Regions from separate parts of the Homo sapiens genome. Here region 1 is linked to region 2. The links come from fine-mapping of genetic effects on gene expression. A gene starts in region 2. The other region holds a variant in brackets. All regions are shown on one strand. Distances are from middle to middle.

Region 1 (2,919 bases), 35 kb before region 2:
ATTTACACACACATGTGCACACACAAAATGTAGGGTAGAAAAATTATTGCTTAGACAAAATAGAAGTCAAAGGGAACAGCATTAAATAGGACAAAAAGAATAACTCATACTACTACTACTAATAATAAAAGTCAACACATTCAAAGTCCATCTTCTTATTCTTCATCTGACTCAGTTTCTGCTCTTGCCTCTCTAAGTGAGGGTATTGTCCTACTGCCCCCAAAGCCAGGCCAAAAACCTGGGCATCATTCTTTACTCCTCTGTCCCTGCGCACACCCAATCTACCGCCCGTGACGTTTTGTTTTTCTACCTCCTAAATACATCTCAATCCATCTCCTTCCCTTTGTGCTTTCTGACATTTTGCTCATTTAGAACACCATCATCTCTTACCTGGCCTTCTACCTCAACCCTCTAACTGGTTCCCTTGCCTCCTGCTTGTTTTCATCAAATCTACTATCCATGGGGAGCTCCAAACTATCTTTCAGTCTACCCATCTGATTATAACATTATTCTGTGTAAAACACCTTTGGCATCCCATTGTCCAGAACTCCTTAATGTCACCCTCTGTAGTTTAACTGTTGATTATCTCTCCAGGCTGGTATCTCATTTGTTGCTTTTTATATCCAGCCACGTGAGCATTTGCAATTCCCAAATACTGGGTCAGCCGCTTTCTCACCTTGAGGGTGTTTCCCTCTGCCTGGTACCCGCTCTTCTTCCGTCTCCCTTTGCCTGGCCAATTCCTATTGAGTTTAGACACCACTTCTCCTTGTAAACCTTTCCTCACTCTCCACTCTGCCAAATCTGGTCGAGTTCCTATTCTGAGTGTTCCAATAGAACCTTGAACTTCCCCTATCATAGTACCTTTCCACTTGATTATAACAGCCTGTTGATATGTCTGGAGTCCACACCAGATTGTAAACCCCATAAAGCTGTGGACCATATCCCCAGGACAAAGATCTATCCAGAAGGGGTTTTAATATTAAATGAGAAATATTATTTAAAAAGAAGTAAGAATGCAACCTAAGAATTTGGAAAAGAGAAAAATAAGCCAAAAGAAATCATCAGAAGGATTTGACCAAGATTAAAAGAAAATAAATCAGAAAGTAGAAAAATTGTATTTCTTTGAAAGAAAACATGCACATAATAAAGTGCATAAATCTGTAGCATTTTATATATAATCAAGAGAAGTTGTATGCACTCAATTGAAAAATTTATGAGAAATTTATGAGAAAGGACAACAGATATCAAGGATATTACAAATTATGCTTATGATTTAGAATAATTTTTAAAATGGCAAATTTCCTATCTAAACATAAATGATCAAAATTGTCTTAATAATTAAGAAATCTGAAATCTCCAGTAACTCAGAAAGAATTTGAAAAAGTACTCAATAATTACTTCAAAAAATGGATACTAACCTGGGCAACTTTACAGCTTTCACATTTTCAAGAAGCAGGTAATTTCTTTCAGA[T/C]AAATTGTTCCGTGGGATAAAACAAGATGAAAGAAATTATCAAATTCATTTTATGAAGATGAAATGATTCTGTTTCAAAAAGCCAAATAAATAACAAACACAAAACTCTTGAATTGAATAGTAATCTTATTTTTGAATACAACTGCAGAAATCCTTAAAAGAATTACAATTTCAAAACAATAGCACCTTCATAAATTATCCACCACATCCAAGTAGGGTTATTCCTGGAATTCAAGAATAGCTCAATCAGAGAGAAATAGGTTAGCATACTACATCAATGGATCTAAAAAGAAAAAAATTATAAAGCTCATAAAGTCATTTCAATGCCATTTGGAATAACAATTCTTAGAAAACTTAAACACAAATGGCATTTATTCAAATTGTCAGTGATATCTGATGGCTAAAGAGTAGAGGTACTCTCTCTCATTAAAAGCAGGAACAAGACCAGGAAGTCTAATATCACCATGACTATTTATAAGAATGCTCTGAACATCAGTTTGTGCTTGTATTTGACCAAAGTCTGCCAATGTGTTTTTGCTTTGATTTTGGCTGTGGAAGTCTGAAGAGACAAATGTCTGCTTCAACTGGCTTTCTAGCGTCCCTGAGATAGTTCCTAGTCAAGGATCATGTGACTATTTAGGTTACCATCACATGTAATCATTAATGATTGGGAGTTCCAATATTAACTGACAGACCAATAGTCTAAGCCCTATAACATCTTCATTTTTATAGGTCAAAACAATTGAATATCAGCTATTTCTTATGACTTAGTCTAAAACAAATATTGAGAGAGAGTGTGTTTGCTAAATAACTTTAAAGAGGACAGTAAATCTCTCTAAAGATATGTTGGAATGTCTCACAAATAAGCCAGGTTGTTACAAGGTACACAATAAAGAGGGATCTGCTTCTAGTTTCAACTTTTCTTATTCATCCTGGATAAGGTGCTTAGGAACCACTGTAACCCACTGTAACTCCTCTAAAAAGCTGGCACAGGAAACAAGACGGCTTGGCCAGTGCAGTAGCTCACGCTTGTAATCCCAGCATTTTGAGAGCCCAAGGCAGGAGGATCATTTTAGCTCAGGAGTTTGAGACCAGCTTAGGCAACAAAGCGAGAGTCCCATCTCTACAGAAAAATAAAATAAAATAAATAGCCAGACATGGTGGTGCACGTCTACAGTCCCAGCTACTTGGGAGGCTGAGGCGGGAGGATTGCTTGAGCCCAGGAGGCCGAGGCTACAGTGAGCTATGATTGCACCACTGCGCTCCAGCGTGGGCAACAGAGTGAGATCTTGTCAAACAAAACAAAACCGCAAAACAAACAAAAGACCCCCCGCCCCCTAAAACCCAAAAAAGACCATTAGGCACCTGAACTCAAAATGTTTAAAATGTTTTTCCTCACCTGCCCACCTCTACCCTCCACAGTGAGCCATCAACCTAATAACAAGAGA
Region 2 (2,919 bases):
ACTAGCGGAAAAAGCCAATGTGTTCCATGCACCTTTTGCTTTCTTTATTAAGGCATGATGTCACCTGTACAGTAACTGCCCTGTGTGTACTTCAGGGGGGGATTTCAAGGTTAGATAGACAGGAAATTGTTTTGAAAATGTAAACACATTATTAAATGTGAAGTATTATCTGATTCCTTGTTCGAATGGCATTTCCTTCTCAGCACCACCTTCCTTGCATATTCACTTAACCTTGTACAAGAACACCTTTTTGCCCTAAATGAAGACACCCCCCCAAAAAAAAGAGTCCCAGAAAATATGTCCCTGCTTGTGCGGGGAATAAATAGAATATTCTGAGGTGCATTCCTCCTTCCTATGTTAGGCAACATTCCTTGACCCTCCTCGGCCCCCAAGCCAGGTTGCGTTTTTTTCTGCCATTTAGAAGGGTTTTCCTTTTTGTCCTAGTAAAACATCAGCCCCTGTAGCTCTTCATCTCCCCCTGGTGTTCTTCTCCCGCCATGTCTTAAGATTGGTGGCACCGACCAATCTTAAGATTTAAGTTCTGTGTGAAAAACACCTTTGCTTTTCAATCAGTTTATCAGCCTCCTCCGCAGGGGAAGTGTGGACACACAAAAGAACTTATCGGGGCTTCTCATCAGTGATAGGGAAAAGACTGGGCATGTGCCTAAACGAGCTCTGATGTTATTTTTAAGCTCCCTTTCTTGCCAATCCCTCACGGATCTTTCTCCGATAGATGCAAAGAACTTCAGCAAAAAAGACCCGCAGGAAGGGGCTTGAAGAGAAAAGTACGTTGATCTGCCAAAATAGTCTGACCCCCAGTAGTGGGGCAGTGACGAGGGAGAGCATTCCCTTGTTTGACTGAGACTAGAATCGGAGAGACATAAAAGGAAAATGAAGCGAGCAACAATTAAAAAAAATTCCCCGCACACAACAATACAATCTATTTAAACTGTGGCTCATACTTTTCATACCAATGGTATGACTTTTTTTCTGGAGTCCCCTCTTCTGATTCTTGAACTCCGGGGCTGGCAGCTTGCAAAGGGGAAGCGGACTCCAGCACTGCACGGGCAGGTTTAGCAAAGGTCTCTAATGGGTATTTTCTTTTTCTTAGCCCTGCCCCCGAATTGTCAGACGGCGGGCGTCTGCCTCTGAAGTTAGCAGTGATTTCCTTTCGGGCCTGGCCTTATCTCCGGCTGCACGTTGCCTGTTGGTGACTAATAACACAATAACATTGTCTGGGGCTGGAATAAAGTCGGAGCTGTTTACCCCCACTCTAATAGGGGTTCAATATAAAAAGCCGGCAGAGAGCTGTCCAAGTCAGACGCGCCTCTGCATCTGCGCCAGGCGAACGGGTCCTGCGCCTCCTGCAGTCCCAGCTCTCCACCGCCGCGTGCGCCTGCAGACGCTCCGCTCGCTGCCTTCTCTCCTGGCAGGCGCTGCCTTTTCTCCCCGTTAAAAGGGCACTTGGGCTGAAGGATCGCTTTGAGATCTGAGGAACCCGCAGCGCTTTGAGGGACCTGAAGCTGTTTTTCTTCGTTTTCCTTTGGGTTCAGTTTGAACGGGAGGTTTTTGATCCCTTTTTTTCAGAATGGATTATTTGCTCATGATTTTCTCTCTGCTGTTTGTGGCTTGCCAAGGAGCTCCAGAAACAGGTAGGCACGCTCGTTGACTTGTAAGTCTCGGAATTACAAGTTAGTGTGTTCTTATCCACCTTCATGCTTTTCTTGCTTCTATTTTTCCCCGTTCTTTTTATGACTGCAGCTTAGAGAGCAAGTGTCTGAGAATTATTGCTGAAAGCTACTTTAAGTCTTCTAGTGTAAAATGTAAAATTCCTCTATTGAATACAATTAGGTGCAATTGACTATAACATGACATTAAAATAACTTATCGTTTTATTATTATTATTCCATTATGTGTTTCCTTGGCTTTTAAAAAATGAGAAGAGTATGGACATATACAATTTAGTCAAATGTATGTTTGTAATATATGTGTTTATACAGGTACACAGGCCATATAGGAACTTAAATCTTATTTAAACACTATTTTAATAGTGTGTTAACGTGTAAAATATTTAAGCATTCCAGCTTGAAGCCAAGGAATTGTATCCAGTCGTTCAAGCAATGTATGTTCAGTAAAATCACCTGCAGAGCAAAAGTCTGTTGACTAACTACCGCCTCCCCCCCCCCCCGCCACCACCCCCCGCAGGCGGTTTCTGGGTGAAGCAGATGTTTTCTTTAAAATTTGTCATCATTGACTTTAGGTTTCTTTTGGCAGGTTTTTGGCACCCAAAACAGTGTGAGCTCTCTTTTCAGCTTTATTCACCTGTGCTGGGAGGGGAGCTAGGATAATTCTTGGCTGCCGAAGGATTTAGGCAGTGCGTGTGCATCTGCCCGGGTCCCCCCCGTTTTTAGGGTCAGTGCACTTTTTTTGTCTTTTCGTGACCCTGACTAAAGAGAAAGGATGTCAAGGGAATGAAAATCCTGGAATGTGTCTGATCATTTGAAATGTACAAAATTGGGCAGATAAGCTGCATGGCTAAATTGTTAGGAGGAAGAGGCAAGGCAGTAGTGGAGAAGGGGGAGGCAGTGGATCCCACACAAGCCTGATGCCCAGGGATTCGGAATTCAAAATCCCCCCAGCCTACCTTCAGTCCCCTGACCTGCTTCTCAGCCCCACCTTAGGTCACTGGTTTCTATGGAGTTACCCTCCTGAATTGAATATTGAATAGTTAATTTCTCTCTCCAATCATTTTCCCCACCTAATTTTGAAAGATATACATCATCTGGGGTACCCTGTGCCCTACACAGCATGTGAAGTGGATGGGTACCCCCTAAAGAGAGGGTCATCCTGAATGGGGAAGTGGCCCCAAAGCTAGGAATAACTGTGATTTCTTGTCTTTAGTCATGTGCCAATGTTAAG

Evidence for each region. PIP is the estimated chance that this variant, and not a neighbour inherited with it, causes the effect.
Region 1: its variant is the best candidate, but not a certain one, in a credible set for the expression of EDN1 in whole blood (TOPMed, PIP 0.51).

What each region holds. Positions count from the first base shown.
Region 1 is chr6:12,253,586-12,256,504 of GRCh38, forward strand. LOC124901260 (a long non-coding RNA gene) reads right to left here. Exons shown (of 3, transcript XR_007059454.1): 2 at 1,419-1,463. It also overlaps a transcript of EDN1 not described here. Among named protein-coding and RNA genes, the nearest start is that of EDN1, 35 kb to the right of the region's middle. The variant T/C (reference allele first, on the strand shown) is at 1,472.
Region 2 is chr6:12,289,042-12,291,960 of GRCh38, forward strand. EDN1 (endothelin 1) reads left to right here and starts at 1,320. Exons shown (of 5, transcript NM_001955.5): 1 at 1,320-1,652. The coding sequence starts at 1,589. RefSeq lists enhancers at 1,073-1,172, 1,183-1,252.